2 separate regions of the Homo sapiens genome follow, and region 1 is linked to region 2. Evidence: fine-mapped expression QTL. A gene starts in region 2. The other region holds a variant in brackets. All regions are shown on one strand. Distances are from middle to middle.

What was found. PIP is the estimated chance that this variant, and not a neighbour inherited with it, causes the effect. A credible set is the group of variants that fine-mapping cannot tell apart.
Region 1: its variant is the best candidate, but not a certain one, in a credible set for the expression of TM4SF19 in visceral fat (GTEx, PIP 0.61).

Annotation. Positions count from the first base shown.
Region 1 is chr3:195,871,905-195,875,904 of GRCh38, reverse strand. TNK2 (tyrosine kinase non receptor 2) reads left to right here. Exons shown (of 16, transcript NM_001382273.1): 10 at 3,435-3,629. Among named protein-coding and RNA genes, the nearest start is that of MIR6829, 8.5 kb to the left of the region's middle. The variant A/G (reference allele first, on the strand shown) is at 1,705.
Region 2 is chr3:196,335,866-196,340,367 of GRCh38, reverse strand. TM4SF19 (transmembrane 4 L six family member 19) reads left to right here and starts at 1,980. Exons shown (of 5, transcript NM_138461.4): 1 at 1,980-2,104. TM4SF19-DYNLT2B (TM4SF19-DYNLT2B readthrough (NMD candidate)) reads left to right here and starts at 1,948. Exons shown (of 6, transcript NR_037950.1): 1 at 1,948-2,104. RefSeq lists a silencer at 1,676-1,847 and enhancers at 1,596-1,890, 1,257-2,456.

The DNA of each region.
Region 1 (4,000 bases), 460 kb after region 2:
TTTCCAGAGCTGGGGCAGCCTTAGGCAGTTCTCAGCACCGGCCTCTGTTTTCCATCTTGTCTACCCCAGAGATGTTGACCAGAGGCCCGGGGGCAGCAGGAGGTAGAAGGTTCATGCGGAGGTGTTGGGCCCTTTTCCTGCTCCCCCAGGAAGTCCTCATCCGCCCCTGCTTCAGTCACGGCCGGGTAGCAGCCCTGGCCCTCCCATGGCCACGGGGACTCCGGCCTGTTCATGGCGGGAGAGAGAGGGCGCGGACAGGGCGGGCCTGGAAGGAAGGGCTGGCCTCAGTCCCCTCTGGACTGCTGGTGCCTCGGCCACACTGAGCCTCACACGGGTGCGTGTGGGCTGCGAGAAGTGACACGGTCCTCTTGGAAGTCCCACTGGAGCCTTGGGATGAAGCTGCCTTGGAGTGTGCGTGGGCGCCATCCCGAGGGGGAGCTTCCTGTGCCTCCGAGCGTGCGTGGGCGCCATCCCGAGGGGGAGCTTCTTGTGCCTCGGAGCGTGCGTGGGCGCCATCCCGAGGGGGAGTTTCTTGTGCCTCGGAGCGTGCGTGGGCGCCATCCCGAGGGGGAGTTTCTTGTGCCTCGGAGCGTGCGTGGGCGCCATCCCGAGGGGAGCTTCGTGTGCCTCGGAGCGTGCGTGGGCGCCATCCCGAGGGGAGCTTCCTGTGCCTCGGAGCGTGCGTGGGCGCCATCCCGAGGGGGAGTTTCTTGTGCCTCGGAGCGTGCGTGGGCGCCATCCCGAGGGGAGCTTCTTGTGCCTCGGAGTGTGCGTGGGCGCCATCCCGAGGGGAGCTTCTTGTGCCTCGGAGTGTGCGTGGGCGCCATCCCGAGGGGGAGCTTCCTGTGCCTCCGAGCGTGCGTGGGCGCCATCCCGAGGGGGAGTTTCTTGTGCCTCGGAGCGTGCGTGGGCGCCATCCCGAGGGGAGCTTCTTGTGCCTCGGAGTGTGCGTGGGCGCCATCCCGAGGGGAGCTTCTTGTGCCTCGGAGCGTGCGTGGGCGCCATCCCGAGGGGGAGTTTCTTGTGCCTCGGAGCGTGCGTGGGCGCCATCCCGAGGGGAGCTTCTTGTGCCTCGGAGTGTGCGTGGGCGCCATCCCGAGGGGAGCTTCCTGTGCCTCGGAGCGTGCGTGGGCGCCATCCCGAGGGGAGCTTCCTGTGCCTCGGAGCGTGCGTGGGCGCCATCCCGAGGGAGAGTTTCTTGTGCCTCGGAGCGTGCGTGGGCGCCATCCCGAGGGGAGCTTCTTGTGCCTCGGAGTGTGCGTGGGCGCCATCCCGAGGGGAGCTTCTTGTGCCTCGGAGTGTGCGTGGGCGCCATCCCGAGGGGGAGCTTCTTGTGCCTCGGAGCGTGCGTGGGCGCCATCCCGAGGGGGAGTTTCTTGTGCCTCGGAGTGTGCGTGGGCGCCATCCCGAGGGGAGCTTCTTGCACACGTCCTCCGCACTCTTACTCTCCTTCCCCCAGGAGCAAGCATGTTTTCTCGAGTGGTGTCAGGACTCCCAGCAGCCATGGGGGCTCTTGCCTCGGCCATACCTGCACTAAGGGAGGTGGGCTTGATGTCTCCTTTCCCTCTCAGAAGTGGGTCCCAAAGGAGGCTTCTGTGCCTGGAGCTGGGCAGTGTTGGCGGAAGGGAGAGGCCAGACGGAGTGACCTGCCTTGGGCACGAGTCACGCTGCTCTGAGCAAGGTCTCGGCCTCAGCGGCATTCTC[A/G]CCCAGTTACTGAGCGCCTCTGAAGAGGTGTGGAGAGCAGAGTCCGGCGTCTGGCCCGCGGCAGCCACCGGGGAGCCCGTGGGTGTAGCGGGAGAGCCGCAGCCCAGCCGGTGCCGGGGTTCCTCCTCTACGGGCCGCCGTGGGAGGCTGTGTGCGTGCTGGGGAGCCGGGGCTCTGCTCCTTCGAGTGGCCCTGCTATTTTTCAGATGGGACTCGTCTCGTCTCGGGGTACTGTCCTCTCTCCTTCCTTCCCTCCCTGCAGGCAGGGTGGGAATCACAGGGTGGCTGTGTGTGGTGGGGCCAGGCCAGTGGCCCTGTGTATGAGGAGGCTGGGCAGGGGGAGCACAGCCCCGTCTCCCCGCGCCCCGCGCCCCCCGCCTCCCCGCCGACCGTGGTGCTCTCGGGTTTGACTTTGGTCTCTGGGATGGGCTGTTCCGGAGTCACCCCGCTCCAGCCAGGCCTCGTCACCTTACAAGGCTGTGGGTCTGGGTGCCCAGGCGTCGCCACCTCCTCCGTCCTCTCTCCCCGGCCTGGCTGGGTTTCAGAGGAGCCCTTCTTCACGCTTTGGCCCTGGGACAGGAGAAGTGGGGGTTGGTGGGGAGGGCGTGCAGTGTGGTGCCACACGTGTCCACCCTAGCAGCTCTGGGCTGTCACCGCCCCCGCGTGCCCAGACTCTGCCCACGGGGCTGTCACCGCCCCCGCCTGCCCAGACACTGCCCACGGGGCTCTCACCGCCCCCGCCTGCCCAGACACTGCCCACGGGGCTCTCACCGCCCCCGCCTGCCCAGACTCTGCTCACGGCATCACGTATGACAAGTCCAGCAGCAGACGCGGGAGCCTCACAACCTGTGAGAGCCTTCGGGAGTCAGGAGTGTCTTGCGGGAGCCCTGTGCTTCCTGGCCTGCCTGCCCCTGCCCCTGCCCCTGCCCCTGCCCAGGCCCCGGCTTAGGCCACATCAGCAGAGGTTTCGTGTCTGAGGTCAGAGGGGGACTGGCAGCCCTACTGTCTGGTCACTGTGGGAGAGCTGAGTTCCCTTTTGGACACAGGTAGAGCCCCTCCTGAGGAGACGGGGAGGCTCCCGCAGGCCTTCCGGGAGGTGGTGGAAAGCTCCGGAAGCAGGTGAAGCGGTGGAGGGAGGGACTGAGTTGCCCGAGTGCTCCTAGACTCTCCCGCGTCTGCATTCGGGAGGCAGGTTGTAGCTGGAGGCCTGGCCCCCAGCCTAGTGCAAGGCCCTAGGTGTCCCCCGGCACCCCCGCACCTCTCAGAACTCCTGGAACCCAGCCGAGGAGTGAAATCAAGTGGCCAGAAGAGGACTGGGGCCCCGGCCTTGCCAGGGAACTGAGGGGTGAGGAGGAGGTGTGGGCGGGGCGCTGGCCCCACAGACCTGAAAGCTGGCGTTGGGTCCCAGGTCTGCTGGGATCTTTCTGGTAACCGTGGACAGGTCATGTTGCCTGCTGCAGCAGCTTCCAGCGTGCCTCCTTATTTGCAAACCATAGGGAAAGCTGCCTGACCCACCTAGAGAGTTGTGGGTAAGGCCGTGTGCAAACAGGCCTGTACGGGGCATGGTGGGTCACGGGGGCTGTTGGGGAGGAGGGCCGGTGGCACACAGCCTGGTCCTGAGGCCTGAGCTCCATCCCCCTTCTGCCACAGTGGCCAGGGTGTGAGGAGGGTCCCAGTGCCGGGGCTGCCCCGCCACGCCTGGCGTTCACCGTGCCATCTCTGTCGCGCAGGGCCGAGAACTACTGGTGGCGTGGCCAGAACACACGGACGCTGTGTGTGGGGCCCTTCCCTCGCAACGTGGTGACCTCCGTGGCCGGCCTGTCGGCCCAGGACATCAGCCAGCCCCTGCAGAACAGCTTCATCCACACAGGGCATGGCGACAGTGACCCCCGCCACTGCTGGGGCTTCCCGGACAGGATTGACGAGTGAGTACTGGGCGGGGATGGATGCTGACCTGGCCCCGCTCGGGACTCCAGGGCCCTCAGCACGGCACGCGTGGGCGGAATCTGCTCTTCACCCTTTCGCCCGGGCTTCAGCCCCCGACCCGCCACTCTCCCCTCCTCACCCTGGCCTTACTCTCGGGAAGCTGTGGAACCCTAGGAAGCCCAGCCTGGTGGGGGTTCTCCAGGGGAATGTTCTCCAGGGGAGTGTTCTCCAGGGGAGGGTTCTCCAGGGGAGGGTTCTCCAGGGGAATGTTCTCCAGGGGAGGGTTCTCCAGGGGAGGGTTCTCCAGGGGAGGGTTCTCCAGGGGAATGTTCTCCAGGGGAGGGTTCTCCAGGGGAGGGTTCTCCGGGGA
Region 2 (4,502 bases):
TTATTTATAACAGGCAAAAGTTGAAAATATAAATGTCCATTAAGAGTAGAAAAAGTTGTAATATCCAATGTAATAATACTCAGCAATAAAAGAAAAATAAATTACATGATGGATGAATCTTACATATAGAATATTGAGTGAAGAAAGCCACACACAAAAGCCATACTGGGCTGGGCGCGGTGGCGCACGCTTGTAATCCAGCACTTTGGGAGGCCGAGGCAGGAGGATCACTTGAGCCTAGGAGTTCGAGACCAGACTGGGCTACATGGTGAGACCCCATCTGTACACGAAATTAAAAAATCAGCTGGCGTGGTGGCGCTTGCCTGTGGTCCCAGCTACTCAGGAGGCTGAAGTGTGAGGATCACTTGAGCCTATGAAGGCAAAAGGCTGCAGTGAGTCATGATTGTGCCACTGCACTCCCGCCTGGATGACACAGCAAAACCGCCTTTTTTTTTTTTTTTTTTAAAGAAAACTGTTTGATTCCATTTATGTGAAATTCAAGAACAACTAAAACCTAATCAATTATTATAAGAGCCAAAATGAAAGTTAACACTGGGGACAAGGGATACGAATGACAGGCGACACAATGAAACCTCTGGGGATTTGGAATGTCCTGTATCTTGATTTCTGTGCTGGTTCACCAGGGTATACATGTAAAAATTCATCAGACTTTAACATTAAGATTTGTGCACTTTAGGCTGGGCGTGCTGGCTCACACCTGTAATCCCAGCACTTTGGGAGGCGGAGGCGGGTGGATCGCCTGAGGTCGGGAGTTTGAGACCAGCCTGACCAACATGGAGAAACCGTGTTTCTACTAAAAATACAAAATTAGCCAGGCGTGGTGGCACGTGCCTGTAATCCCAGCTACTTGGGAGGCTGAGGCAGGAGAATTGCTTGAAGCCAGGAGGCAGAGGTTGCAGTGAGCTGAGATTGTGCCACTGCACTCCAGCCTGGGAACAAGAGTGAAACTCCGTCTCAAAAAAAAAAAAAAGAAAAGAAAAGATTTGTGCACTTTACTGTATATAATATCTAGATGTTTAAAATGCAATGGGAGCATAGAGAAAGAAGTACCTAACTCGGAGTAAAGAAATCCTGGCAGACTTCACTGGGAATGTTTGAACTGAATCTTGAATAGGAGCTTGTCCATAGAGGGTCACGGATCTCCCACACAGAGAGCACCACAAAATCCTCAGCAATTTGGTGAGAGTATGGTACAAGATGATAGTGGCCTGGGGCTTGAACAAGAGGCTGAGTGCGGTGGCTCACACCTGTAATCTCAGCACTTTGGGAGGCTGAGGCGAACACCTGAGGTCAGCAGTTCGAGACCAGCCTGGCCAAAATGGCAAAACCCCGTCTCTATTAAAAATACAAACATTAGCCGGGCATGGTGGCAGGTGCCTGTAATCCCAGCTACTCAGGAGGCTGAGGTGGGAGGATTGCTTGAGTGTGGGAGGCGGAGGTTGCAGTGAGCCGAGATCATGCCACTGCACTCCAGCCTGGGTGACAGAGTGAGACCCTGTCTCAAAAAAAAAAAAAAAAAAAAGTTAGACGTCTAGTACAGGAACCATGCAACACATCGAGTCAGCCAAGGGCAAGGTAAGGAGAGTGATGAGGAAAAAGGGGTGGCTGCCCTGCTCGGTGCTGTTCTGTCAAAGAGCCGAAATTCTTCGCGGGGTGGCAGATGAGGACAGGAACAGCTGGGGTGTGGCAAGTGTTGCTGCCTGGGGAGAGCGGAGGGTGAGGTGTTTCTCACGGGTGCATCCAGTGACTCATCAGGACAGCGGAGCTCATGAGGCCATGTCTCCCGTTTCCTGCCTTAGAATCACATGAAAATGAGCAGAGGGTGGGTCATCAGGACAGGGCTCTCCGGGGAGCGGAAGCGCCTTCAATGCAGGCCTGTGGGCAGGGGCGTGGGGGCGCGCACACACACACGCCTGGGTGACCTCTACGTATATACAGAGCCTCCCTGGCCCTCCTGGAAAGAGTCCTGGAAAGACAACCTTCAGGTCCAGCCCTGGAGCTGGAGGAGTGGAGCCCCACTCTGAAGACGCAGCCTTTCTCCAGGTTCTGTCTCTCCCATTCTGATTCTTGACACCAGATGCAGGTAAGCAGAGATGAAAGGGTGAGGTGACGGCCAGGGAACAGCCTAGCCTCACAGATGAGAGTGCACGCTTCCACTCCAGTGAGCCTGGCTCTGCAGCTTGGCGTCTGTGTGACTTTGCGCCATTCACTTACCTTCTCCTGTTGCCTCAGTCTGTCAACTTCTGGCCTTTGCACCTAGAATACTCTTCCTGCCTAGTATCTCATCGTCCATCAAGTTTGGGCATGGGCAGCCCTTCCTCCGGGAAGCTTCGTTTTGCTTCTGCCAGATAGGATTAGGTTCCTCCATGTGCTTCCATGACACCTTAAGTTGGATGCCCCTGCCTGGTACTTACTGTTACCAGCTGTGAATCCAGCGAGTCTGCAGCAAACTCAATCCTTGCCTTCTCGGGGGAGAGATTCGGCTGAGGGGCAGAAGTGGGTTTAAGGCAGAGGGAGAGGCTGAAGCAAGTTTGAGAGCAGGAGTGAAGGTTTATTAAAAAGTTTTTGAGCAGCAATGAAAGGAAGTAAAGTACACTTGGAAAAGGGCCAAGTGCGTGACTTGAGACACCCAAATGTGCTGTTAGACCCTTGACTTGGCGCCTGCCTGCCGCACAGGCACTTGGGAGGGGCCGCATGCGCAGTGTGTTTACTGAAGTCGTGCGCATGCTCACTTGAGGCGTTTTTCCCTTACCCGCGGAGCAGCACTAGAGGAAGGTCACACACACCAGCTAAACTCCACCATTTTGCTTCTTAGTGTAGATGCTTGAGCCCACTCGCCCAATTCCTGAGCTCTTACCAGGAAGCTGCTGATCACCAAGTTCAGGTATTTTCTATCTATTGGGAGACTGTCTTTCCCAACGCTGGCTGTGACCAATATTATTTTAGAAAGACAGTGTAACAACCGCCTGGCCATCACCTGATAGTCACCTGACATTACTGGGGTAGAGGCCCTCTCCCGCCCTGCTCATGTCTGCTCTATTTCTTACCACACTTGATTAGAATTACTTTTTGGCCAGCCTGACCCACATGGCGAAAACCCATCACTACTAAAAATACAAAATTAGCCGGGCGTGGTGCATGCCTGTAATTCCAGCTACTTGGGAGGCTGAGGCAGGAGAATAACTTGAACCCGAGAGGCGGAGGTTGCAGTGAGCCAAGAGCATGCCGCTGCACTCCAGCCTGGGCAACAAGAGCGAGACTGTGTCTCAAAAAAAAAAAAAAAAAAAAAAAAAAAGAATTGCTTTTTGCGTCAGCAGTGTCCCCACTAGACTTTAAGCTCCTCAAGGAAAGGGATTACATCTTTTTCATCGTTATATCCCTAGCCCCCCAAGTGTCTGTCAGGTAGTGATCACTTAATAAATATCCGACTGAAGGAAGAATGAAAGAAAAGCCTTGCTGGGTGGCGAGGGAGAGACACAGATGTAGAGAATGTGCGGTCTCTTCCTCCATGGAATTGAGCCGATCACTTCTGTTGTTGCCTGGACATCTAGCCGATGACGTGCTCACCTAGCTAGGACCTCAGGACAGAACAAGGAACTCCCCAGCAGCCTGGTTTTAAGGTTTTACCTTCTGATCTTGCTTGTCTCTTCAGATATCAAATTAGGCCACCTCTTTGCTAACCTCCTGGTTCACATTTTTGGAAGGGTTTCTCCAAATGTTATAATTTCTAGGGGAATAAAGTCAGGAGGAGGGGTGAAATTCACACGAAGCCGCAGTGCGGCAAGTGCTTTTAGTGTTTGATTGGCGGACAGCCAGGGCTCTGAATTCCACTCATCCAAAAGCCATGCTCCAGCTGGTAGTTTTCCCTCGCTGTCCATCATTTTTAGTTTCCCCTTTAAGAGTTTTCTGGGCTGGGCGCTGTGGCTCACACCTGTAATCCCAGCACTTTAGGAGGCCAAGGTAGGTGAATCACCTGAGGTCAGGAGTTCAAGACCAGCGTGGCTAACCTGGAGAAACCCCATCTCTACTAAAAATACAAAATTAGCCGGGCGTAGTGGTGTGCACCTGTAATCCCAGCTACTCAGGAGTCTGAGGCAGGAGAATCACTTGAACCCAGGAGGCGGAGGTAGCAGTGAGCTGAGGCCGCGCCATTGCACTCCAGCCTGGGCAACAAGAGTGAAACTCTGTCTCAAAAAAAAAACAAAAAACAAAACAAAAACAAAAACAAAAAAAACAGACTTTTCTGATGGGAACGTTTTCTGTAGAAGAGATCGTCAGGGGGGTTGATGTTGCTGAAGTGTGTAGACGGTGCTTTCTCAGAGGTGCCGTGATTTGAAGGCACTAAATGCATTCCTGCACAACGGCGTCTCCTGGCCCCATGATCTAGAGCACCCGCTTGAAAGGCCAACCACACACCCATCTTTCCTTGGGCCCCGGTCAGACATCTGGGTGGGCAGTGGATTAAAGTTGTGAGTTGTTAA